Homo sapiens: one gene and its partners. The protein of the gene in region 1 purifies or fractionates together with the protein of each later gene. This does not show direct contact. Each region holds a gene or a part of one and is shown in the gene's direction. Other genes may lie near its edges. The genes, in order: FCGRT, PDSS1, MPZL1, ITM2B, FIRRM, IQCB1 and HGFAC.

The links.
Region 2: the proteins of FCGRT (region 1) and PDSS1 purify together in Homo sapiens (affinity purification with mass spectrometry; 2 studies listed by BioGRID and IntAct, with this or other methods). This does not show direct contact.
Region 3: the proteins of FCGRT (region 1) and MPZL1 purify together in Homo sapiens (affinity purification with mass spectrometry; 2 studies listed by BioGRID and IntAct, with this or other methods). This does not show direct contact.
Region 4: the proteins of FCGRT (region 1) and ITM2B purify together in Homo sapiens (affinity purification with mass spectrometry; 2 studies listed by BioGRID and IntAct, with this or other methods). This does not show direct contact.
Region 5: the proteins of FCGRT (region 1) and FIRRM purify together in Homo sapiens (affinity purification with mass spectrometry; 2 studies listed by BioGRID and IntAct, with this or other methods). This does not show direct contact.
Region 6: the proteins of FCGRT (region 1) and IQCB1 purify together in Homo sapiens (affinity purification with mass spectrometry; 2 studies listed by BioGRID and IntAct, with this or other methods). This does not show direct contact.
Region 7: the proteins of FCGRT (region 1) and HGFAC purify together in Homo sapiens (affinity purification with mass spectrometry; 2 studies listed by BioGRID and IntAct, with this or other methods). This does not show direct contact.

What each region holds. Positions count from the first base shown.
Region 1 is NC_000019.10:49,511,316-49,515,460, forward strand, and holds the start of FCGRT (IgG receptor FcRn large subunit p51 isoform 1 precursor), read left to right. Parts: upstream 1-1,345; 5' UTR 1,346-1,435; intron 1,436-1,950; exon of another isoform or gene 1,951-2,071; 5' UTR 2,072-2,085; coding exon 2,086-2,158; intron 2,159-2,566; coding exon 2,567-2,818; intron 2,819-2,895; coding exon 2,896-3,171; intron 3,172-4,145. UniProt on the Homo sapiens protein: Cell surface receptor that transfers passive humoral immunity from the mother to the newborn. Binds to the Fc region of monomeric immunoglobulin gamma and mediates its selective uptake from milk.
Region 2 is NC_000010.11:26,700,701-26,704,200, forward strand, and holds part of PDSS1 (all trans-polyprenyl-diphosphate synthase PDSS1), read left to right. Parts: intron 1-1,457; exon of another isoform or gene 1,458-1,461; coding exon 1,462-1,494; intron 1,495-3,500. UniProt on the Homo sapiens protein: Heterotetrameric enzyme that catalyzes the condensation of farnesyl diphosphate (FPP), which acts as a primer, and isopentenyl diphosphate (IPP) to produce prenyl diphosphates of varying chain lengths and participates in the determination of the side chain of ubiquinone.
Region 3 is NC_000001.11:167,763,482-167,766,981, forward strand, and holds part of MPZL1 (myelin protein zero-like protein 1 isoform a precursor), read left to right. Parts: intron 1-2,101; coding exon 2,102-2,268; intron 2,269-3,500. UniProt on the Homo sapiens protein: Cell surface receptor, which is involved in signal transduction processes. Recruits PTPN11/SHP-2 to the cell membrane and is a putative substrate of PTPN11/SHP-2.
Region 4 is NC_000013.11:48,253,706-48,257,205, forward strand, and holds part of ITM2B (integral membrane protein 2B), read left to right. Parts: intron 1-102; coding exon 103-231; intron 232-2,471; coding exon 2,472-2,678; intron 2,679-3,500. UniProt on the Homo sapiens protein: Plays a regulatory role in the processing of the amyloid-beta A4 precursor protein (APP) and acts as an inhibitor of the amyloid-beta peptide aggregation and fibrils deposition. Plays a role in the induction of neurite outgrowth.
Region 5 is NC_000001.11:169,801,540-169,805,039, forward strand, and holds part of FIRRM (FIGNL1-interacting regulator of recombination and mitosis), read left to right. Parts: intron 1-1,081; coding exon 1,082-1,186; intron 1,187-1,629; coding exon 1,630-1,770; intron 1,771-2,535; coding exon 2,536-2,701; coding exon of another isoform or gene 2,702-2,709; exon of another isoform or gene 2,710-2,847; intron 2,848-3,500. UniProt on the Homo sapiens protein: Regulates PLK1 kinase activity at kinetochores and promotes faithful chromosome segregation in prometaphase by bridging kinase and phosphatase activities.
Region 6 is NC_000003.12:121,797,061-121,800,560, reverse strand, and holds part of IQCB1 (IQ calmodulin-binding motif-containing protein 1), read left to right. Parts: intron 1-1,186; coding exon 1,187-1,365; intron 1,366-3,333; coding exon 3,334-3,443; intron 3,444-3,500. UniProt on the Homo sapiens protein: Involved in ciliogenesis. The function in an early step in cilia formation depends on its association with CEP290/NPHP6.
Region 7 is NC_000004.12:3,440,671-3,444,767, forward strand, and holds the start of HGFAC (hepatocyte growth factor activator serine protease isoform 2 preproprotein), read left to right. Parts: upstream 1-1,297; 5' UTR 1,298-1,331; coding exon 1,332-1,448; intron 1,449-2,061; coding exon 2,062-2,242; intron 2,243-2,379; coding exon 2,380-2,476; intron 2,477-2,670; coding exon 2,671-2,750; intron 2,751-3,368; coding exon 3,369-3,491; intron 3,492-3,640; coding exon 3,641-3,772; intron 3,773-3,952; coding exon 3,953-4,063; intron 4,064-4,097. UniProt on the Homo sapiens protein: Serine protease that hydrolyzes the inactive zymogen hepatocyte growth factor (HGFsc) to an activated disulfide-linked heterodimer, then initiating hepatocyte growth factor receptor signaling pathway.

The sequences.
Region 1 (4,145 bases):
GCAAGACACTATCTCTGCAAAAATACAAAAATTAGCTGGGCCTGGTGGCAAGTGTGTGTAATTCCAGCTCCTTGAGAGGCTAAGGCAGGTGGAGTGCTTGAGCTTGGGAGGTTGAGGCTGCAGTGAGCCATGATCGCTCCACGGCATTCTAGCTTGAGTGACAGAGCCAGACCCTGTCAAAAAAAAGGAAAGGAAGGAAGGAAGGAAGGAAGGAAGGAAGGAAGGAAGGAAGGAAGGAAGGAGGCAAGGAAGGAAGGAGGCAAGGAAGGAAGGAAGGAAGGAGGCAAGGAAGGAAGGAAGGAAAGACTTCATATTATATGATTCAATTTCTTTGAAATGTGCAGAATAGGCAAATCTATCAAGACAGAAAGCAGATGAATGGTTGCCAGGGGTCTGGGAGCAGCGGCTGTTTAACGGGGACAGACCTTCTGTTTGGGGTGATAAAAAAGCTCTGGAACTCGGATAGAGGTGACAGTTGCACAGCACTGTAAATGTGTTAAATGACAGTAAGGGTAAATATTTTGAATATTTTACCACAATGAAATAAGTGTATGGGAAGCTTTGTAGCAGGAGTGTGGGCGGGGGCTGGTGCCTGGAGGGGCCTTCGAGTGAGGCAGCATTGTATGGGGACCATGTGGTCACTGAAGTCCTAGCAGAAGGATGTGGTTTTTTTTTTTTTTTGAGACGGAGTCTCGCTCTGTTGCCAGTCTGGAGTGCAGTGGTGCAATCTCGGCTCACTGCGACCTCCACCTCCCGGGTTCAAGCAATTCTCCTGTCTCAGCCTCCCGAGTAGCTGGGACCACAGGCCCACCACCACGCTCAGCTAATTTTTGTATTATTAGTAGAGACGGGGGTGTCACCATATTGGCCAGGCTGGTCTCGAACTCCTGACCTCGTGATCCGCCCGCCTTGGCCTCCCAAAGTGCTGGGATTACAGGCGTGAGTCACTGCGCCCGGCCCGCAGAAGGATATTAAAGAGCACCTGCAGGAATTTTTTAAGGGGATGCCGGGGGAAGGGCTTGAAGGAGGAACTAAGGAGGCTTCCAGAAGATTTTGATTAACAGCGAGCGCTAGGGAAGGCCACGGGGATACAGAGGGGTAGGAGGAGGATCCAGAGACCTCCAAGTTGTGGACTCCGGAGGCATCGAGTTCCTTTCCCAGTTTTGTCAAGAATTCCCTGAGCGGCAGACACCCTCAAAGTAAAAAACGGGAACCACAGAGAAGGAAAAAGAAGAACCACAAGCGTTTTGAGAAACAAACAGGCTGGGCCTAGGGCCTGGGGTGTGCCCTGCAACTGGGGGGTGGGGCTGGATGTTCTTGGAGTCAGGGAGCAGCAGCCTCCCACAGGATGTGAGAGAGGAACTGGGGTCTCCAGTCACGGGAGCCAGGAGCCGGCCAGGGCCGCAGGCAGGAAGGGAGCGAGGCTGAAGGGAACGTGAGCCGACCAGGGCCCGACTGAGGGAGGAGGGGCTGGGGGCCTGGAACCCTGGGTCTGAGGGAGGAGTGGCTGGGGGTCTCGACACTGGGTCTGAGGGAGGAGGGGTGGGGGCCTGGATTCCTGGGTCTGAGAGAGGAGGGACTGGGGGTCTGGACGCTGGGTCTGAGGGAGGAGGGAGGAGGGGCCGGGGGGGCCTGGACTCCTGGGTCCGAGGGAGGAGGGGTTGGGGGCCCGGACTCCTGGGTCCGAGGGTAGAGCGGTTGGGGGCCCGGACTCCTGGGTCCGAGGGTAGAGCGGTTGGGGGCCCGGACTCCTGGGTCCGAGGGAAGAGCGGTTGGGGGCCTGGACTCCGGGGTCTGAGGGAGGAGGGGCTGGGGCCTGAGGGGGGCGGAAGGGGCGTGGCGGAGCTCGGGGCCGGGACTCTCAGCCTATCAAGTGTCTGTAATTAATTAACCAACTGAGATCCAGTTCAGGGGTGAAAGTTCTTCAGGTACGAGGAGGGCATTGTTGTCAGTCTGGACCGAGCCCGCAGAGCCCCTCCTCGGCGTCCTGGTCCCGGCCGTGCCCGCGGTGTCCCGGGAGGAAGGGGCGGGCCGGGGGTCGGGAGGAGTCACGTGCCCCCTCCCGCCCCAGGTCGTCCTCTCAGCATGGGGGTCCCGCGGCCTCAGCCCTGGGCGCTGGGGCTCCTGCTCTTTCTCCTTCCTGGGAGCCTGGGCGCAGGTGAGGGCCGCTCCGGGCCAGGGCCCTGCTGCAGGCGGGCGGCGGGAGGCGGCCCCAGGCAGGCAGGGGCGAAGCCAGCGGGACCCGAGTTCCCCGCGAGCCCCTGGCGCTGCCTTCTCCGCTCAATTAACTTTCTCAACGTCTCCTGCTGGGCCTGAGGCTGGGAACCACCTGTCGCCTCTTGTGTCTGTTTCCCTCTCTCTCTCTGGGTCTCTGTCCCCCTCTCTTTCTGGGTCTCTTGTCTCTCTCTCTCTGGGTCTCTGTCCCCCCCCCCCCGGGTTTCTGTCCCCTCTCTCTGAATCTGTCCCCCTCCCTCCATAATAGATTCTTCTCCCTCCCTGGGTATCTGTCCCACTGCAGTCTAGTTCCCCGCCCGTGTGCTCCCTTCAGCTCTGTTTCTGTCTGCAGAAAGCCACCTCTCCCTCCTGTACCACCTTACCGCGGTGTCCTCGCCTGCCCCGGGGACTCCTGCCTTCTGGGTGTCCGGCTGGCTGGGCCCGCAGCAGTACCTGAGCTACAATAGCCTGCGGGGCGAGGCGGAGCCCTGTGGAGCTTGGGTCTGGGAAAACCAGGTGTCCTGGTATTGGGAGAAAGAGACCACAGATCTGAGGATCAAGGAGAAGCTCTTTCTGGAAGCTTTCAAAGCTTTGGGGGGAAAAGGTGAGATTCCGGTCTGGAGGGGCAAGGGGCCGGGTCCATGCTCCGGGGCCCCGCTTACCTGTGTTTGGGCGCCCCAGGTCCCTACACTCTGCAGGGCCTGCTGGGCTGTGAACTGGGCCCTGACAACACCTCGGTGCCCACCGCCAAGTTCGCCCTGAACGGCGAGGAGTTCATGAATTTCGACCTCAAGCAGGGCACCTGGGGTGGGGACTGGCCCGAGGCCCTGGCTATCAGTCAGCGGTGGCAGCAGCAGGACAAGGCGGCCAACAAGGAGCTCACCTTCCTGCTATTCTCCTGCCCGCACCGCCTGCGGGAGCACCTGGAGAGGGGCCGCGGAAACCTGGAGTGGAAGGGTGAGCCGGATCTGCAGCCGCAGGCTGTTCTGTCCTCTCTCCCGTCATGCCCACCTGCCTCAGTTCCCCTGCCAGGACCCTCCATCAGCCTCCCACTGCAGCCCACGCTCTGCCCCCCCATTCCTCAGGGGTCCTTCTACACTCAGCCCTCCCATGGCTCCCCAGCGCCCCCCAGGACAAACTCCTGGCTTCCTTCCTTGCCTTCTTTTTTTTTTTTTTTTTGTGAGACGGAGTTTCGCTCTTGTTGCCCAGGCTGGAGTGTAATGGCGCGATCTCGGCTCACCACAACCTCCGCCTCCCGGGTTCAAGTGATCTCCTGCCTCAGCCTCCCGAGTGGCTGGGATTACAGGCATGCACCACCATGCCCGGCTAATTTTGTATTTTTAGTAGAGACGGGGTTTCTTCATGTTGGTCAGGCTGGTCTCAAACCCCTGACCTCAGGTGATCCGCCCACCTCAGCCTCCCAAAGTGCTGGGATTACAGGCATGAGCTACTGCTCCTGGCTCCCCCCTTTTTTTTTTTTTTGAGACAGATTCTCGCTCTGTCACCCCAGGCTGGAATGTGGTGGCACCATCTCGGCTCACTGCAGCCTGAACCTCCCAGGCTCAAGCAGTCCTCCCACCTCAGCCAACCAAGTAGCTGGGACCACAGCCCAGCATCATCACACCTGGCTAACTTTATATTTTGTAGACACGGTGTCTCACTATGTTGCCCAGGCTGGTCTTGAACTCCTAGGCTCCAGCGATTCTCCTGCTTTGGTCTCCTGAGTAGCTGAGATTACAGGTGCATACCACCATAACTGGCTAATTTTTTTTTTTCCGCACAATCTCTGTTGCCCAGGCTAGTGTGAAGCAGGGTGATCTCAGCTCGCTGCAACCTCCGCCTCCTGGGTTTAAGGGATTCCGCTGCTTCAGCCTCATGAGTAGCTGGCACTATAGGCACATCCACCATGTCTGGCTAATTTTTATACTTTT
Region 2 (3,500 bases), on another chromosome or scaffold:
TTCTAAGTTTCTGAGGCCTCCCCAGCCATTCAGAACTGTGAGTCAATTAAACCTCTTTCCTATAATTATAGATTGCCCAGTCATGGGTAATTTCTTTATAGCAGTGTGAGAATGGACCAATACAGATAATTGGTACCAAAGTAGTTGGCATTGATATAAGATACCTGAGAATGTGGAAATTACTTTGGAACTGGGTAACAAGCAGAGGTTGGAATAGTTTGGAGGGCTCAGAAGAAGAAAGGAAGATGTAGGAAAGTTTGGAAATTCCTAGAGTCTTGTTGAATGGCTTTGACCAAAATGCTGAAAGTGATATGGACGATGAAGTCCAGGCTGAGGTGGTCTCAGATGGAGATGAGGAGCTTCCTGGGAACTGGGCAAAGGTCACTCTTGCTATGCTTTAGCAAAGAGACTGGTGGCATTTTGCCCCACCCTAGAGATCTGTGGAACTTTGAGCCTGAGAGAGATGATCTGAAATTGGAACTTAAATTTAAAGGGGAAGCAGAGCATAAACGTTTGGAAAATTTGCAGCCTGAAGATGTGATAGAAAAGAATTTTCTGGGGAGGAATTCAAGCTGGCTGCAGACATTTGCATAAGTAACAAGGAGCCGAATGTTAATAGCCAAGAGAATGGGGAAAATGTCTCCAGAGCATGTCAGAGACCTTCTCTGCAGCCCCTCCCATCACAGGCCAGGAGGCCTAGGAGGGAAAAATGGATTCATGGGCTGGGCCCAGGGCCCTGCTGCTCTGTGCAAGAGCAGCCCTGGGACTTGGTGCCCTGCTTCCCAGCCGTAGCTAAAAGGGGCCAAGGTACAGCTTGGGCCATTGCTTCAGAGGGTATAAGCCCCAAGCCTTGGTGGCTTCCATGTGCTGCTGAGCCTGCAAGGTGCACAGAAGACAACAATTTGGGAACTTCTGCCTAGATTTCAGAGGATGTATGGAAATGCCTCAATGCCCAAGCAGAAGTCTGCTGAAGGGGGGAGAACCCTCATGGAGAACCTCTGTTAGGACAGTGCAGAAAGGAAATGTGGGGTTGCAGCCCCCACACGGAGTCCCTGCTGGGGCACTGCCTAATGGAGCTGTGAAAGGAGGGCCACCGTGCTCTAGACCCCAGAATGGTAGGTCCACCAACAGCTTCCACCGTGCACCTGGAAAAGCTGCAGGCACTCAATGCCAGCCCATGAGAATAGCAGTGGGGGTTGAACCCTGCAAAGCCACAGAGTCAGAGCCACCCAAGTTCTTGGGAGCCCACCCTTTGCATCAGTGTGACCTAGATGTGAGACATGGAGTCAAAGATCATTTTGGAGCTTTAAGTAATGACTGCCCTGCTGGGTTTGGACTTGCATGAGGCCTGTAAGCCCCTTCGTTTTGGCCAATTTCTACCATTTGGAATGGGAACATTTAACCAATACCTGTACTCCCATTGTATCTTGGATGTAACGTAACTTGTTTTTGATTTTACAGGTTCATAGGCGGAAGGGACTTGACTTGTCTCAGGTAAGACTTTGGACTTGGACTTTTGAGTTAATGCTAGAATGAGTTAAGACTTTTGGGGACTGTTCGGAAGGAATGATTGGTTTTGAAAAATGAGGATATGAGATTTGGGAGGAGCAAGGGGCAGAACGATATGGTTGGTTCTGTGTCTCTACCCAAATCTCATCTCAAATTTTAATCCCCATGTGTCAAAGGAGGGCCTATGTGGAGGTAATTGGATCCTGGGGGCAGATTCCCCCATGCTGTTCTTGTTATAGCGAATTCTTATGAGATCTGATGGTTTTATAAGTGATTGGTAGTTCCTTCTGTGTTCATTCTCCTTCCTGCTGCCTAGTGAAGAAGGTGCCTTGCTTTCCCTTTTCCTTCTGCCATGATTGTAAGTTTCTTGAGGCCTCCCTAGCCGTTTGGAACTGTGAGTCAGTTACACCTCTTTCTTTTATAAATTACCCAGTCTTGGGTATTTCTTTATAGCAATGTGAAAACATACTAATACACCTCGTTTCTAAAAATCAGCTACGCATTGTGGCATGTTCCTGTAGTCCCAGCTACTCAGTAGGCTGAGGTGGGAAGATAGCTTGAGCCCAGGAGATTGAGGCTGCAGTGAGCTATGATTGCACCACTGCACTCCAGCCTGGAAAAATAAAATAAAAGTAAATTCATGAGAGGCAAGGTTGACTTTCAGAGAGTGTGTGAGGGAAAGGTAAGAAACAAAATCGGAATTAGAAAATGACTGTTGCCCCTCTCTTTTCATTCTTCACTGCTTTTCTGAGCACCTCTCACCTCCCTTTGAAAAACTGCTCTAAAGTACTTTTAAAGCAGAAAATAGTAGCTTGATTGAATAGATACTGTATTAAATGTATATTGTGTACCAGGCTCTGAGCTAAGAGCTTTACATCTGCTCTCTAAATTAATCTCCACCTCTCTCCATGAGTAGGTATTATCAGAAAGACATCACAAGGTAACACAAATGTTGAGATTTGAACCGAGATCTGTCTTCCAAAGTCCATGCTACTAATAATTGTTAGGCCACTTGGTGGTAAAAAGCGTCCCCTGTATTAATTAGCTGTGTAATTTTAATCCTTCAACCCAGATTAGGGGTCTATAACTGAATAACTAAAAAGTTATTCAGTTAGAATAGTTCAGTTAGTTATTATAACTAATCATAGTTATTTGGTCAAGCGCAGTGACTCACGTCTGTAATTCCAGCACTTGGGGAGGCTGTGGCAGGAGGATCACTTTTGCTCAGGATTTCTAATAATAGTAACTATTACTAGAGACCTGATAATAATTATTAAGTCTCTTACTGAAGAAGTTTTACTCTTCCATTAAGATGCCCTTATTTATAAGTATTATAATAAAATACTGAACTCATATGAATTAATTACCCATGTAGACTGAAAGACATAGGTTGTCATATAATGGTTGTCATATAAAGCATGAAGGAGGATTGTCACTTTGTTTTCTTGTTGCACTGTAATTGCCTGGGATATCATGAAAGTTCTTACTGGTTTAATGAATATGTAATGCTGTGGGGGAAAGAATGAAACTCAGGCCAACTACTTTGACTGGTGTCTGGCAAAGTCAACTTTCATTGTCATTTTAATATGGCGCCGGGCGCGGTGGCTCACGCCTGTAATCCCAGCACTTTGGGAGGCCAAGGCGGGCGGATCATGAGGTCAGGAGATCGAGACCATCCTGGCTAACACGGTGAAACCCCATCTCTACTAAAAATACAAAAAATTAGCCAGGCGAGGTGGTGGGCGCCTGTAGTCCCAGCTACTCAGGAGGCTGAGACAGGAGAATGGCGTGAACCCTGGGGGGCGGAGCCTGCAGTGAGCCGAGATAGCGCCACTGCACTCCAGCCTGGACGACAGAACGAGACTCCGTCTCACAAAAAAAAAAAAAAAAAAATATGGCTAGAGCAATACATGTTCATTAGAGAAGAATCAGAAAATATCTACCAAAAGAAGGAATAAAACAAAACACCCCCACAATCCGATTCATTCCAG
Region 3 (3,500 bases), on another chromosome or scaffold:
AAGATTGAGACTCGGTCTCAAAAAAAAAAAAAAGAAAGAAAGAAAAGAAAATCCTTGAGAAACTTTATTTATAGACTTTTAGAGACTGTGGCTTTCCAGTACTCATCACCATGGAGAAAACTAGTCAAAATCACACAGAGTGAATAAGGGTTGCAAGCCAGTGCTGCTTCCTGGAATAAGCTGGTCCACTAGTCTAGTCTTGTGCTTTGTCCTTCATTTTGAACTCAAGTGCCCTGGGGCTGCTTTTCTGCGTACCCACAATAGCAAGGAACTCTTTTGTTTGCATCTCCTCTGAAAGAAATGCTTGTTTTGAGGTTTGGACCGCAAATAATAATCTATTGTTCCCTGTAATAATAATCCACCCTCTTTCGCAGAAAAAAAAATCTGCTTGATGCAGTATGGCTATCAGTTTATTTAAAAGAATAGCCAAAAGTGCCCATTATGTCCTGAGAATAAACATTTGCAAGATGGTTGGGAGGAATGGGGGAGTACTCTTGTTCTCCTTGGCTGAGAGTCAGTTAAGTCTTCAAGGAGAAAAAATTCTGAAAATGACCATCAGTCCTGGCTGACAATACTCTTCCTTATTCTGCCCGTCTGTTACATTCTAAGAATTATTGCAACACTGCAGATATTTATTCCAAACGATTTCTTTAAAAAATATGGAAGATGGGTATTTTTAAGTTACCAATTTTGGGCCAAATAAGTTTTTTTTTTCTGACTTTCATTTTGTCTGTGAAAGCATTTCTTTTATAGCAGTATGTTCAAATTAGCAATCTTTAAGAATTTGGCAAATACTTTTAACAGCAATCCTTAACAATTCCTGCAGTTGCCTACTATTGCAGATCTTGAAAAAAGAGCCATTTTTATATTCTAAGTGGTAGACACATTTCAATTACTATTTCCTGGGCTTAGGCTAACTGACAAAACTTGATGGGTGAAATGAAAATGTGATATACGGTGTAATCAGCTGTTTACTTACCTAGCACAGTGAAATCTTATGGTAGGTATGATTGCACTAACAAAACCAAAACATGCATTTTTCTTCCTTAAGTTCTTTATAAGAAAAGGATCAGTTAAATAATAAATGTGGCTTTAAAATGAAGTTATATCTTAGGATAGTTTTAATTGCATTACATATGGATGATGAGAAAAGTTCAGTGTGATAACAATTGCGTAACAGATAAGCATGAGAACTACTTAAAGAAATAAAAATATGCCCATCACCTCATTAAAAATAGACCATCAGGGAAGCCACCAAGAAGTCCTTCAGTAGGTGAATGAATAAACTGTGGTACATCCATACAATTTGTATATTATTCAGCAATAAAAAGAAATGAGATATTATGCCACAAAAAGACACGGAAGAAAGTTAAGTGCATATTACTAAGTGAAAGAAGGCAACCTTAAAAGGCTACATGCTGTATAATTTTAACTAGATAACATTCTAGAAAAGGCAAACCTATAGAGACAGTATAAGGTCAGTGTTTGCCAGGGGTGTGGGGGGAAGGACGGCAGGAATAAATTGGTGTAGCACAGGGGATGCTTAGGGAGTGAAACTATTCTGTATGATACTGTAATGGTGGAGACGTCACTATTCACCTTTGTCAAAATCCATAAGATCTACAACACTAACACAAATCCTAATGTAAACTATGGACTGTGGTTAACAATGATGTAACCATATTGGCTCATCAATTAAAACAAACGTATAACACTAATGCCAGATGTTAATAATAGGAGAAACAGGTTGGCCATGGGAGAGTGAGGGAATATGAGAATTCTACCTTCTATTCAATGTTTCTGTAAACCTGAAACTGCTCTTTAAAAAGTCTATTAGTTTAAAAAAAAAATTCAATATAACCAGACTAATAAAAATATCTTAACTAAAAAGCAATACAAACCTAAACTGTCAGCAATTATTCTGTTTATAGTGCTATTCTGATTGAACTTAGCTGTAGAATATTCTGCCAGAAATATGTAATGGCAGTGAATTACTGTATATATCTAGTAACTTTGCTGTATCTTTTCTTGTCTGGCAAAAATGCACAGTGGTATTCATGTTAAGTCCTACTTTCAACTACCCTTATTCCTTTCTCTTCAGTGACAGCTGGAGTATCAGCCTTGGAAGTATATACGCCAAAAGAAATCTTCGTGGCAAATGGTACACAAGGGAAGCTGACCTGCAAGTTCAAGTCTACTAGTACGACTGGCGGGTTGACCTCAGTCTCCTGGAGCTTCCAGCCAGAGGGGGCCGACACTACTGTGTCGGTAAGAATGCTTGACTTCTCTTGGCTAGTCCTGCCTCACAGGTTTCTTTACTGCTGTATAATTGGTGATCCATTTTTCTGATGGTTCATTTCCAAAATGAGTGTATTTTTTATCTGTTATAGACTTCAAGGCCCTTCTTTTGCTTCAGGATAAAATAAGTTCAGCATCTCTTAAATGCGTCTGGTTTCCTTGTCTTTGATCAGTTCCTCTCCACCATCAAATCCCATTCTGAAATTGATCTTAATTGACCACACTGACTCTAATCAGGATTTATCCTGCATCTTTTCATCTTTTATTGCCCCATATTTATTGATATTTGTTTTATGTATTATCAAATTTTATATATATATGTATGCATCTTCTGATTTGATTATCTTTTTTTAATTTAGCGTATAGTCCATCTGATTTAGCAATATTGATTTGGGAGCTTACTATGTAGTGGGTTATGTAGGGCCTTCAAAAATGTCTAAAACAGAATCCTTGCTCTCACCTAGAGATGATTAGGAGGAAGGCTGATATATAGATGACTTTGGAGTAAGATAAAGGATGTAACAGAAATACAGCACCAGAGCATTGAAAAAAGGTTATTTAGTAACTAGTGGAGTGCTGGTTATTAAACATGAACTGACTATCTTGGTTCTGGTCTGTAAAATGGAGACGATAAAACCTCCCACACAAGGGTGTTAGGAGGATAAAGTAAGATTATTCAAGATAAGTGCTCAGGAGAGTGTCTAGCTCTTGAGTTACTAAAATACACCATTTGTTGTTACTGTTGCTCTCCCAGCATGTGGAATGCCCTTCATATATTGGCACATATTTTAGTACTGTTGCATGTTTCAGGTTGTCAGTGTTTAGCAAGGACAGTCTGTCATCTATCTTTAAGAATGCCCAATTCTTCTTCTGAATGGTGAGTTACATTGTTGATCACCACCTAGATGTTGGGCCCATCATATGCCTATGCCATTTAATCTTCACAGCTCTATGAGGAAGACAGGGTGGGGAGGATGGGAGACACTGACTCAAGAGTTATTCACCTGTGGCCATACCACACAGGTTAGAATTGTTTAAACTTCAATACGGTATGATTTCCCTTATGTATTATTTCTCTCTCAGGTAGAAAAATCTGCTAATAATATTTACGGCCTCATAGGTTTTAGGGATTACCTAAGGCAGTGCTTCTCAGTATTTTTTAAAATTTATTTTTAAAAGGAGCCTTTTCACATTTTTCTTAA
Region 4 (3,500 bases), on another chromosome or scaffold:
TCTTCATTTATTAAAATGATAATCATTAAGGTTTTTCTAGTCCTGAGCCTTCTGTTATTCTGTCTGGAGATAAGATATTTAACTGTCTTTTTCATATTTTAGGACCCAGATGATGTGGTACCAGTTGGCCAAAGAAGAGCCTGGTGTTGGTGCATGTGCTTTGGACTAGCATTTATGCTTGCAGGTGTTATTCTAGGAGGAGCATACTTGTACAAATATTTTGCACTTCAAGTAAGTGGAAAAATTATTTTGTGTCTCTGATTTTTTTTTTTTTTTGCCTCTCCCGATGTGCATTACAAAATTGTTTACAACTTGCGCTAAGCTTGTACTTTTTATCTGTGACCTTCAGCCAGAGTGGTAGTTCTATTTTAAAGCTGTGTTTAAACATCTCTCCATGATATGTTTGCTGAGCCCATCACACACAGTCACTAAAAGCAGAGTAACTTGAAATGTTGGTGACTAAGGGATTTATTTAGGTCATTGGGTGATTTTACTAACCTTTATTTTCCTACTATAATTAAGGGTTGAGAGGAATAGTATTATCAATTGCCAGTTGAATAAATACATCAGCCACAAATGTTTTCATGTTGATAGGCCATAACTTGATAGTCAGCTTGGACTCCCCTATGGTCCTGCTGTACCCTTGGGCCCAGAATACAGTAAGACCATGTCTCTGCTTCTTTTCCAGTCATGGTTTCACTAAAGAACTGGGTGACTTCAGCAGTGATATTGAAATAACATAGGATGAAAGTTGTTTATAACTTTGAGTGTTTAATAGTAATCCCAGTGGGTTAAGACAAAGGTCTTCCTTGTGATTGATTATAATTTACAATCTATTTTGTAATATATTTCTCTTGGCAATAATACACAATTTTTTTTTTTAGGAGTTTTGAAGGGGAAATTACTTTCAAGGTTTTATGACTACTTCAGCTGTTTCAAAATTTGGAGAAACAGTTGACAACTAGACTTATTAAAATAATTTAACTAATTTTGAAACATTCTCAATTTCATGCTCATTTTCTGTGTTGTTCAAGATAATCAATCACATGTTGATAGACATTACCAAAATACTAGTCATCTTTTTAAATACAGTTTTATTTACAAGAAATACATATAGTATAGAAAAAATCATCGCAATTCCATTTTCCAGAGATAACATTTGGTGCATTAACTTTTTTTTTTTTCTTGAGACAGAGTTTCTCTCTTGTTGCCCAGACTGGAGTCCAATGGCGCGATCTCGGCTCACTGCACCCTCTGTCTCCCGGGTTCAGGCAATTCTCCTGCCTCAGCCTCCCAAGTAGCTGAGATTACAGGCACCTGCCACCACTCCTGGCTAATTTTTGTACTTTTAGTAGAGACAGGGTTTCATCATGTTGGCCAGGCTGGTCTCAAACTCCTGACCTCAGGCGATCCACCCACCTTGGCCTCCCAAAGTGCTAGGATTACAGGCGTGACACACCATGCCTGGCCCTGTGCATTCACATTTTGTATACCCTTAGTCTTTATTGTGTGTGTAGTGTGTGTAGTGTGTGTGTGTGTGTGTGTGTGTGCGCGCGCGTGTGCGTGCGCGCACGTGTACATGTACTGTGTGTTTGGCTTTTTTTGAGATGGGGTCTCACTCTGTCATCCAGGCTGGAGTGCGGTGGTGCAATCACAGCTCACTGTAGCCTCAACCTCTTGGGCTCAGGCAATCCTCCCGCCTCAACCTCCCCAGGAGTAGCTAGGACTACAGGTGCGTGGCACCATACCCAGCTAATTTTTTTATTTTTTGTGGAGACAGGGTCTCACCATGTTGCCCAGGCTGGTCTTGAACTCCTGGGCTCAAGCAGTCCATCTGTCTCAGGCCTCCTCCCCACAAAGTATTAGGATTACAGGCATGAGTTACTGCACCCGACCTTATGTACTGTTTTTTCTTTTTGTAAAAGTGAGACAGTAGCATAAAGATTTGCTGTAATCTAATATTTTCCACTGAATTGTGATATAAAGGGAAAAGTAGAACTACGTATATGCATATAGAAATTTCAGAAAAATTATCCCTTTTTTGGCTAATAAGAAAAAAGTCATTTAATTAGTAGACCATATCAAAACTTTTTAATATATTCTTTCAGAAAAACTTGACTAGTTTTGGAATGTATTCTTCTATAAAAACTGCTTACAGGTAGAGTAGGTCTGTTGTTTCTTTATATTTATTTGTTACTGGATAGCTAATTATTTTTATGTTCTATTTTCACCTACCAGGAAAAGTAAAGGGAAAACCAGCTGCCTTTCTTCTGAAGCTGTTCTTTTACAGTGCTTCAAAACCTGATCTTAAAGAATATGTTAACTCTGTAATTAAACTGTCTGACTTGTCATCTAAAAGCAAGAGTTTGCAAGCAAAATGCTATTTAGATAGAGGTGGCAGCTTAAGTAATGCTTATTTAAAAACCTGTCTCATGCTGAATTGCTGAAATGAGTCTTTAAACTCTCTATAGCCAGATGACGTGTACTACTGTGGAATAAAGTACATCAAAGATGATGTCATCTTAAATGAGCCCTCTGCAGATGCCCCAGCTGCTCTCTACCAGACAATTGAAGAAAATATTAAAATCTTTGAAGAAGAAGAAGTTGAATTTATCAGTGTGCCTGTCCCAGAGTTTGCAGATAGTGATCCTGCCAACATTGTTCATGACTTTAACAAGGTGAGCCAAGTGTCCAGAATTGTAGAAAGAATGCAGGTTCTGTAGTTTATGCTTTTTGTAGTTTTAATTTCAATATTTGCTAATTTATTATATTTAGAGTTTAGTTTAATAAACTGTCAGCATTTGGTGGGCTCTGCTATGTCTGAAGCAGACCCTGCTGATGCAGCCTTCTCATATCTTATCTCTCCTTCCCCTTGCCTTACCTACTCTTAAAGCCCACCTCATGACTGTTCCTCCTTTGCTGGCAAACTAATATTTTTTATATGTTCCCACATTTTCTTAGATAAGAGGTAATTTATGTTCCTGTTTCTTGGTAGCATTTTCAAAATCAATAATTTTGTTAATCTGTTTTTAAGTTCTCATTCTATATTTTTCCCCAGCTTTTGAGCATTTTTATGTAATGCAGAAAAGTTGAATACCCAAAATCCTCCACTTTGTTCCAAATATTGCCATATTTGCTTCATCTCTTTTTCTGTCATTTGACATAAGTACTTATGCTATTATCTCTCAAGAATGAGTTGTCCTCCTACGTAACCACATAATTATCACATCTAAGAAAATTAACATGATCTTATAGGACAGTAGTCCCCCCTTATCCGTGGGGGATACATGCCAAGACCCCCAGTGGATGTCTGAAACTGCATATAGTACCAAACCCTGTATATACTATGTTTTTTCCTGTTAGTGTACATATATACATATGTTAAAATTTAATTTACAAATTAGCCACAGTAATAGATTAACGACAATAATAATAAAACAGTTATAACAAAATACTATAATAAAAGTTATGTGAAGGTGGTTTCTCAAAATATTTTATTA
Region 5 (3,500 bases), on another chromosome or scaffold:
TCTTGTATTTTAAAGCCACTGTACTCCAGCCTGGGTGACAGAGTGAAACCCTTAATTCAAAAAAAAAAAAAAAAAAAAGAAAAGCTGGAATATTGGCAAAATCAAGTAACTAAGAGAAAACATTAAATTCACAGAATACATTATTACATTTTAGATATATATGGTATATGTTTTCTCTGAAAAGCACAAGCATACCTTTTTTGTTTTAAATGGAGGGAACTAAAGATACTTTGGTGCCAAAATGAAACATTATTTGTAATTAATCTCTTATTGAAATGGGTTTCTAACTTTAGCTTTGAATCGTAATCTTTCAAATTTCTTGTACTCATAGTCACTTGATGATTCTCTATCTGAAATATTTCTTAGAATTTGTTCTTGACCACCAGAAAAAGATTCAACTGTTACATAGATGAAAATGGATGTTGAGTGTTAACAGGCCTATGGGAAACAGTATTTTCTTTAGCTACATTGTATTGTTGACTGTGTTGCTATTCTTATAATGTTTAGGTCATTTAAATTGTTAGAAAGATCCAAGTATTAAGATCTAGGGTGGCTAACTTTTCACAGACAAAAAGCTTGTTTGTAAGGTCATTTACTATACCCTTAATTCAGGAAGGTTAGCTTGAATTGGGTCAAAAGGAAACTGGTTAGAAAATAAGTGAGTAGTGAATAGGCGATTCAGTGCAAATTCCTTCCAGAAAATACCCTTGTAAATGACTGTATGAATGTGGATTCTTCAAGACAGTCAAATTTATTGTGCGAAAGTAATACTTTTATTTTTTGCATCTCTAAAACATGAACTTTGAGTGATTTTTTAAAAAAATTGATGCTATTAAATAGATTCAAACCATAGAAATGGAAAATAAATTTCTGTTTGGGGCTTTTGGGGGGATTATGTTGTAAAAATACCTTTTCTCTGTATTTTGTGCTTAATTAGGTACAATTGTTAAGCTAGATGATAGCCTGTGGATGTTACTAGTGCAAAATCAAATTATCGTATTGTGTTTTCTCTGTAAAGTTTTGTCTTGTCTTTTCTAGTGATTTCTCTTATTCCTGTTTATTACTTGATTTGTTTTTACAGACTGTGAAATTATTCGATGACATGATGTATGAATTAACCAGTCAAGCCAGAGGACTGTCAAGCCAAAATTTGGAAATCCAGACCACTCTAAGGAATATTTTACAAGTAAGTCAAATGTATTAGAAAGCAGGAGAGAGAGGGAGCTTAAAGAATGTCAAAATTTTTATACTGATACTGATTAGCTATGTATTCTTATGTAATGGCCTAATGTTGGAATTAAATTTATAGAATTAAAGACGTGAATATAGAAACATGAATTCTGAATAATAAACTCTTATAAGAAGAGAAGTCATCAAGCTAGCTGACCCTACCTGTATTTTCAAGGATATGTGTGGAACACCTGCCATGTGTTTTGAAGTTTGTGTTAGTATTCTAAATGGCTAGACAGTTGTTCCAGTATTTGTAGTTCTGATAGACTAAAGTTCTGTGAAAAGAGGAAGAGACTGTGTTTTGTTCATTGCTGTATTTGTAGCACCCAGCATGCTGACTAATACCTTTTCAGTGCACAAAAAATATATTCTAAGTGAAATTTCCTTCCTTATTCACAGACAATGGTGCAGCTCTTAGGAGCTCTCACAGGATGTGTTCAGCATATCTGTGCCACACAGGAATCCATCATTTTGGAAAATATTCAGAGTCTCCCCTCCTCAGTCCTTCATATAATTAAAAGCACATTTGTGCATTGTAAGGTGAGTAAAGGTCTAATTATACTTTGAATGGTATATAATCAATGTGCATAGGGGCTGAGTAAAATAATGTTTGTATAAGATTTTACATTTTAGTCTATATTATTGAAATAAACTTTTCCATAGAATAAAGAACATGTAAGTAAATAATTGTTGCAAAAAAAGTGGTTTTAAGGAAGTCATTAAAAGTGGCTTTTTGGGGTTTTTTAGTTTTATCTTATTTCCCCTCTATAAAGAAAGAAGTTTTAAGAATTTGTGTTGAGACAGACACAGGGATCCTGAAATAGTTATGTCATGTTGCATTGACCAATATTCAATTACCATTATGATTAGATGTCAGAACTTCCTTTTATAAAGGAAAGTTAATCCTTATTTAGTCCATCTCTACATGCCAGAGGTAGCCTTGAGGCACAAAAGCTTGCCTAGAATTTATGGGTCACAGACAGTTTTAATATTGCTATTTGTTGGGCGAATGAAAATCACTAGTTAATTAATACCTCTCTTTGCTGATAGGATGCTAAAAATGTCACGCACCTGGCCTAATGTTACCCTTTTTTAGTTCTGTATTTGCAAGATCATGGAAGTCAGAAATAATATTTTATACATGCTTGCATCTCTTGAAGCACACTATATTTAATGGATGTTCACTAAACAATGAATGAATATGTGATTCAGTAAATTTATGATCTCTAATAGTATGAATTAAAGTAAATTTGGCTCTTGAGCTTTGATTTGTTTTTTCTCTCATTTTTATTTATCCGTAATCAGAATAGTGAATCTGTGTATTCTGGGTGTTTACACCTAGTTTCAGACCTTCTCCAGGCTCTTTTCAAGGAGGCCTATTCTCTTCAAAAGCAGTTAATGGAACTGCTGGACATGGTTTGCATGGACCCTTTAGTAGATGACAATGATGATATTTTGAATATGGTAATAGGTGAGTGAAGAAAACTTTCTGCTTAGTATATGGTGACTATAAATCATGTATCAATTAAAATTGTCTCTAATGATTCATGTTATTTTCTTACTAATTATGCATTAAAATTGATTTAAATCTTACCAAATAAATTTTTAATCTTGAAATTTGGAATTTGTAAAATTTATTTTGGGTACCTTAACCTAGATTTGCGTATTTAGTTACTGTAATTTCTCCACAATGATTAACTTATATAACTTTATAATCTCTGAGGTTGTCCATATTCAGAGACAATAACTTTCACATTTTTTTAACCATAACTGATATTGAGATGCAGTTTATATTTCCTTCCAGAATACATATAAATACGTGCATATGTGTATGTAAATATGTCTATTCTCATATACATATTATAATGAAATAACTCATTTTACATGTGATGCACTTTATACTAGTTTATTTTTATTTTATTTTATTTTTTTGAGACAGAGTCTCACTGTGTAGCCCAGGCTGGAGTGCAGTGGCACAATCTCGGCTCACTGCAACCTCGCCTCCCGGACTCAAGCGATTCTCCTGCCTCAGCCTCATGAGTAGCTGGGATTATAGGCGTCCGCCACCACACCTGGCTAATTTTTGTATTTTTAGTAGAGACAGGGTTTCACCGTGTTGGCCAGGCTGGTCTTGAACTCCTGACCTCAGGTAATCCACCTGCCTCAGCCTCCCAAAGTGCTGGGATTACAGGCATGAGCCACCGTGCCCAGCCAATACTAGTTTATTTTTAAAGAATTGCTGGTCGTAACACACTTCATTGATTTTATCA
Region 6 (3,500 bases), on another chromosome or scaffold:
TCCTAGGCATAGGGAATAGCATGTAAGAGACACAGTGGCACAGAAGTAGATGTCACAAAGATTCTCACATATTTTGATTGGATAACTTTATAAAGTCTTTCAACTCAGAGATTTTTACATTTAAGGTATGTTGCTGATCTCTTTTCTCTTAACAAAATTATTTTAGTAACTACTAAAGTACAATTTTCAAAAAGCTCAAACATGAGTCTTATACAAATATAAAATTTGACTGCTCAAAATTTTATGCAACTCATTAATGAGGGAACAAATAAGATATTTATACAGGGTCAAAGGAGAATTTGAGGAAAATAGATTTATGGAGTTGGTTTGTCGAAGAAATGTAGAAGTAAATTTGCTGATAGATTTTTAAAATTTGCTAATAGGAAAATATGACTTATAAAGCAATGTAGCTTCTAGAATTACCTTTTCTACTGGACAGAAATCATTTGTATTGCTTTGAATAAGAGTCTGTTTACATTGCTCTTAGATAAGAATCTTTAGCATTGTTTTCTACCAGCCAACCTCTATTTTTACAGAATTGTAAAGTATTTTAATAGTGAGTAGAAAATTAAACAGAGGTACATACGCCTAGAAAATCACATAACTCCTTAAGGGGGTAAATAAAAGGATACTCACTAACCCTTTCCTTTTGACTATTTCTAAGTTTTAGATAATTTTTCACAACATCAGTAATACAAGATGGGTTGTTAGTATAATGAAGGAAATACCAAGGAAAGATTTTAAGTTTCTCCTATATTAAGCACATGATAGAATTCCTATGGCATTTTTGTCTTTGTACATCATTTAAAAATTAACTGTGTACCTGTCTTGATTTCACTTTTATCATTGCCTTGAAGCTTTTAAATTATTTATTGTTTAGTATTTTGCACATTTATATTTCATCCTTGATTTGATTGCAGGCTTCTCTAAGGAGAAGGCCTTTGGCTACTTTGTATTCTCTATTGTACCTAGCACACATGGCACCTTGCACACAGTAGGAATTCAATAAATATTAAGTGACTGAATATGATATCTTCTTGGAACCAACATATATTTGAAAAAGTGGTTATATTCTTGGATCAGGACACAGTCCGGCATCAAGTTACTGAATCTTATATTTTAGATTTGTTGTGATACCTGTACATCAATTAGTAATGGTACTTTTTTTTTTATTTTGTTCTATTAGTGGTGATTTACTCAGAATAGGAAGAAAAGCCCTGTATTCAATTTTAGATGAAGTTATTTTCAAGCTTTTTTCAACTCCTAGTCCAGTTATAAGAAGTACTGCTACAAAACTCCTACTGTTGATGGCTGAATCCCATCAGGAAATTTTGATTTTACTGAGACAAAGTACCTGCTACAAAGGTAGTACATTCATTCTTTCTTTTCTTGGGATTCTCAAAAAGAAAATTTTTATTGATGGTTTATGAAAAACAAAATTCTTATATTTTAAAGAGTTGATAACTGACCTATGTAGATAAAACTCACAACAGATACCAATTCAGAAAAAAAAAAGTCTTTATATAATCAAGCTATCTTCATGTCACTACAGATAGCATGTGGAAGATACTTTTCTGATCAGGTTGCCATAAATATTTACTCCCTCTCTGACAAAAAGGTTTTGTGTGTTGAATATACCATATAGTATAGTAAAATAATGACCAAAAAGATCAGTGACCTTATCAAGACCAGCTTTAGTGGAGAAAATGGAGCTGTGCTTGAGAGGCCAGTGGCCCTTATGGTATTTTGAACTATCAATAATTACTTAACACTGCCTTTCCTCAAAAACAAACAAAAAAAATTGCCTTACCTCCAAAATCAAATACATATGTGAATTAAAAGTCAGAAATTTTGAGGATAAAAGGAGTAAGCGTATATACATTCTCATATAATAGCTTTCATTTAATTGAGCATTTACTGTGTGTCAGGCACATTCCATATACTTTATATGCATTAAAATGTTTAATCTTTACAACAATCCTATGGGATAGATATTCTTATCCTTATTTTATAGATATAGAAACAGAGACATGGTAATTTGCCCAAGATCACAAAGGTAGTATATATATTGTTTAATTGCCAAGCAAAGTTATATGTTATCTTTGTTTTATTTCTTTGCTGACCAGAGCCATGTATGTATTATAATCTATTTTTCTTATTCAGCGTGGTCAGGAAATGGGATTCTAGTTCATTAAATATACTTATTAACATAGGGTTATACTGTATGGGAATTTTTAAAGGTTAGAATATAATATGATGCATTTAATACCTAAACAACTAGAAAGGTCTTTATCATTCTTGATGATTTTGAAGACATTGTAATAATGTACCTTGAATTAGTCATTACTGAGGGTATTGTAGGAATAGAGAAGGAAAGTACCAGTAATAGAGCTCTTTAGTTGATATTGTGCCAGATAGACATTTTTCAATTCTGTAATTCAATTCCTAAAGAAATGTGAATGTCCAACAGAGTCGTTATAAAGGAATTTTACCTGAATCCTTCTCCCTTTCTTTGACTTATATCTCAATAGCAGAACTTATTCAGATTCCTGAAGATATTTTACAATTATTAATACTGCTGAGAACTTGGGTGTTGAAGAGAGTATAAGGCATTAAAAGATCCATATAGTGGTTTCCCCAATTATACACTACAAGGCAATTTTACCTTATGTATTTATTTTGAATACACACATTATAATACATCATTTCAGTGTACCCTGGAAACAGTACTTACTTTGTACCTTTCACTACTACTATGTATTATTTTGGCATGAAAATGTACTATCCTAGTGTTGTAGCACTTCACCTATAATGTTTTCCCAGGAACCTATTGATTTGCCCCAAATTATATATGTTACCATATGTTTATATTTAATAATCTTTTTCAACTAATAATGACTAATAATAATCTGCATAAGTGCTTCCACAGGGCAAGCATTTACTGAATATGTGTCTGTAGTAATTTATCTTTAAAATGTCTCCATTTAAGTATTTTTGTTCAAATAAAAAAAATTTATCTCTACTTTTTGATTTACCACAGTGATTCCATCCCACTCCTTTTTTTTTTTTTTTATTAAAGAGATTGTCTAGACAGATTTTTTTTTTTTTATCAGATACCACAATTGAGCACGTAAGAATTCTCAGGAGGGAGGAATATCTTAAAGATTTCAACCTGGAATTCTCTGAGAAAAGGAAAAAGAAAAATCATATGATTAATCTTGTTTTCATTTGTTTTTAAGCCAGACTTTTTAGCTTCAAATTAATACTGATTAGATAACAAAATCATATTTTATTATTATAATAATAGTTGTACCTTTTGCTATTCCATTTCAGGACTCAGACGTCTACTAAGTAAACAGGAAACTGGGACTGAATTCAGTCAAGAACTTAGACAGCTTGTTGGCCTTTTAAGCCCAATGGTCTATCAGGAAGTAGAAGAGCAGGTATTAAGTTACAAAAAAAAAAAATTGCATGATATTTGCTGACTATATTAAACCTTA
Region 7 (4,097 bases), on another chromosome or scaffold:
CCCCCATTCACCGTGCCCCCAGCACCCACCATGCCTCCACATTCACCGTGCCCCCAGGGCCCACCATGACCTCCCCCCCAACCCCCAACCCCCCATTCACCGTGCCCCAGGGCCCACCATGACCTCCCCCCCAACCCCCAACCCCCCATTCACCGTGCCCCCAGGGCCCACCACGCCTCCATGTGCACTGTGCCCCCTGGGGCCCACGGTGTCAAGCTGGGTGGTCAGTGGGTGTCCATTCTCTCTCCCTCTGCACAGACAGGCAAATGGGGGGCAGAGAGAGGGGTTTTAGGGGATACAGGGAGGCAGCTTCAGCCCTCGCTGGTCTCCAGGCCACAGTGGTTCACTCACCCCTCCTCCCACCTCGGCAGCCCTGGGATGTCGCTGCTGACTCAGGAGGAACCCGAGGTGCCGTAGCGGCTGCTCCAATATTGCAGAAGAGGTTCCTCAGGCAGCTCTGCCCACAGCCCCAAGTCACGAATTCCGTGACTCCAGCTCCATCCCAGGCCCCAGGGTACCTGGCCCAGGGTTGTGCTGCCGCAGACTTGGCCTGTACCATCCAGGCGGCGGTGGGGAGCTGGGGTTGGAAAGGCTTCTTGGAGTGGACTCCTGGGTCTGTCTGGGAGACGGGGAGGAAGGGACACTCTGAACATCACCAGGGGCTGCTGGGGGGCCCTGGCCACCCCCAGAGTCAGAACAGGCAGGTGGGGCAGGATCTCAGGTCATCCTATGCTACACTCAGCCATTGCGTGGCCCCTCTCCTCCCTGTGCCTGGCCTTTTGGCCAGCCCTGGGGCCACCGAGAGGATGCAGCACCGAACCCTCCAGGAGCCCCCAGTGCTGCCGTCTGTGGGACAGGGACAATCCCATCCCCACTGCTACTGTCTGTGCTGTGCTGGGCACAGAGCTGGACACCTCCAAGGCCCAGCGCCCGTAGTGGCTCTCATCATGGACAATTCACAGGCAGATGGTGGCCAGCTCTGTGGCCTGCAGGGACTGGGAGCGGCGCCAGACCATCTAGGCCCCAACCTATCTGCATTATCCTGGAAGACTTCCTGGAGGAGGCTTCTAAGCTGAGGCCCAAGGACCATGTCAGGTCTAGGACTAGGACCAGTGCAGGCCGAGGCCAGAGAGACAGCTGGGCTTCCAGGTAGGGTCAAAGTGAGGTGGGCAGCAGGTGTGGGGGCCAGGGGACTCGGGGACTTCCTCTCCGGCTGGGCCCGCCTGACGTGGGAGGCAGCCAGGGTTAATCATTTCCACGAAGCCTTGACCCCACCTGCCTTGGCCGCTCTGCTCCCGCCTCCCACTGCCCCTCAGGCCAGCTCAGGAGCCATGGGGCGCTGGGCCTGGGTCCCCAGCCCCTGGCCCCCACCGGGGCTGGGCCCCTTCCTCCTCCTCCTCCTGCTGCTGCTGCTGCTGCCACGGGGGTTCCAGCCCCAGCCTGGCGGGGTGAGCACTGACCTTGTCGCAGTGCGACCAGAGGTTCCCAGTGGCTACTTGGGGTCCTTGGGAGGAGGCCAGAGGGAGGGTCGCCACAGAGCGTGGGGATTTGAGGGGGCGGGGGTCCGAGCAGGGGGCTTACGTTGAAAGCTGGCCCTCACAGGGCAGGTGGGTGCTGGACTGGCCTTGGAGGCTGGGGCCTGGGCTCACGGAGCCCCACCTGGGGGCTGTCATCCCTGTGCGGCCTGGCCTGGGCCCCTATGGGTCTGGGGGCTGCCCCCTCTCTCTGGACCTCTGTTGGGTCTGGATGCGTGAGGTTGGGGGAACCTCCCAGGGCCTCCTAGCTGCTCCCATCACCAAAAACTGACGTCAGGGTTTAAGCTTGGTGGGTAGCAGTGCCTGGGCCTGGGCAGTGACCCTGAGCAGGTGTTAACTAGGGGCCGAGGGCGGGGAAGGTGTCAGGGCCTGGCTGAGGCCTCAGGAATGTCGTGTGTCCTCCTGGAACCTGCTCCGAGATCTGGGGGCCCCAGTATGGAAACAGGCTCAGGGCTGTGACCTCCTGCCCGGCAGGACCTGAGTGTGAGGGTCTGTCCCACACTGACACCCTTTCTGCTCCTCCTAGAACCGTACGGAGTCCCCAGAACCTAATGCCACAGCGACCCCTGCGATCCCCACTATCCTGGTGACCTCTGTGACCTCTGAGACCCCAGCAACAAGTGCTCCAGAGGCAGAGGGACCCCAAAGTGGGGGGCTCCCGCCCCCGCCCAGGGCAGTTCCCTCGAGCAGTAGCCCCCAGGCCCAAGGTGGGTCAGGTGGGCCTGGGAGGAGGTGTCGTGCTTCACCTTAGGGCTGGGTGGGAGGAGCATGGCTGCGGCTGGAGGTCCTGAGGGGCTCGGGTGCCCCTCGAGGGAGCCCTGACCCTGCCACCCCCTCCCCACAGCACTCACCGAGGACGGGAGGCCCTGCAGGTTCCCCTTCCGCTACGGGGGCCGCATGCTGCATGCCTGCACTTCGGAGGGCAGTGCACACAGGAAGTGGTGGGTCCGGGCAGCCGGGGCACCCGAGCTGGGGTCACCTGCCCCACGCTGCCTGCTTTTCTGGGAGCCGGGCACACAGTAGGCGCTCACCACGCAGCAGGCGGACCCAGTGAACCCAGAGACCCTCCAGGGTGGTGGGGTGGGGTGGGGGGCCTCTGCCTGGGACCCCCATGCACGCAGGTGTCGCCCCCCAGGTGTGCCACAACTCACAACTACGACCGGGACAGGGCCTGGGGCTACTGTGTGGAGGCCACCCCGCCTCCAGGGGGCCCAGGTGGGTGCTGGGTTGGGTAGCCTGGGGCGGGCAGGGGGCACTGGGCCAGGCCAGAAGGGCCAAGGGGAGGATGGGGCGGACCCGGGCAGGGGTCCTGGCTGGAGGGGAGCAGAAGAGGAGCTCTGGGATTAACCCCGGTGGGTGCCACTTAGGGCCAGAGCCTCTCCCAGGTGGGACCTGCGTCTCATGGTGGCTGCGCGGCCATCGCTGGGGCCAAGGCGCCGCCTGGTGGTGAGGCCGGGCCCTGCAGCCACACAGGCGTGCCCCAGGCAGGGGACAGGTGGGCAGGGTCTGTGGGGTGCGGTGCCAGCCGCCCTGCTCACATGGGTCCTGGGACACATGGGAGGGGTCTGCTGCCTGACAGTGTGGGTGTCAGGCTTCCAGGAAGCCACGTGCACAGCTGGGCCAGTGGCCCAGGTGTTGAGTGGGGGACGCTGGGAGGAAGGGGAGGTCTGTGCCCCTCCCAGGGACCTTGCACCCCGAGGGGCGTAGAGAGGGCCCCTTTGCTCTCAGAGCCCCTCACTGGGGCCTGATGGACGCCTTAGCAAGCAGAGAATGTCACAGAGGGACCCTGAGCCTCCCAGTCCGCCCCTCACACCCCCTCCCGCATGTCCCCAGCTGCCCTGGATCCCTGTGCCTCCGGCCCCTGCCTCAATGGAGGCTCCTGCTCCAATACCCAGGACCCCCAGTCCTATCACTGCAGCTGCCCCCGGGCCTTCACCGGCAAGGACTGCGGCACAGGTGAGCTGGGCCTCGGAGGTCCGCAGGGGTCCAGGGGCCGGAGCAAGTCCCCGGAGGATGGGAGAACAGGTGGCTCCCGAGTGCAGGGCAGGGGCCCTGCACGGGGACAGCAGGTGGCAGGGTGTGAGGGCTTACTGTGCACCCCTCAGAGAAATGCTTTGATGAGACCCGCTACGAGTACCTGGAGGGGGGCGACCGCTGGGCCCGCGTGCGCCAGGGCCACGTGGAACAGTGCGAGTGCTTCGGGGGCCGGACCTGGTGCGAAGGCACCCGACATACAGGTGCGCCACGGGGTGTGAGCCGTGCCACTGACCCCTGACGGGTGTCCCTGTCCACACCCGAGTGGGAGGAATGGCCTGAGGTCACCCAGAAACAAGGGACAAGGGGTGGACCCCGGCCCCGACTCCGCTGTCGTGGGGCACTGCGCGGCCCCTGGCCCAGCTCCTCGGCCCTGCCCCCAGCTTGTCTGAGCAGCCCTTGCCTGAACGGGGGCACCTGCCACCTGATCGTGGCCACCGGGACCACCGTGTGTGCCTGCCCACCAGGCTTCGCTGGACGGCTCTGCAACATCGGTGAGTGGGTCAGCCCCCCGGGGTGCCCTGGGGC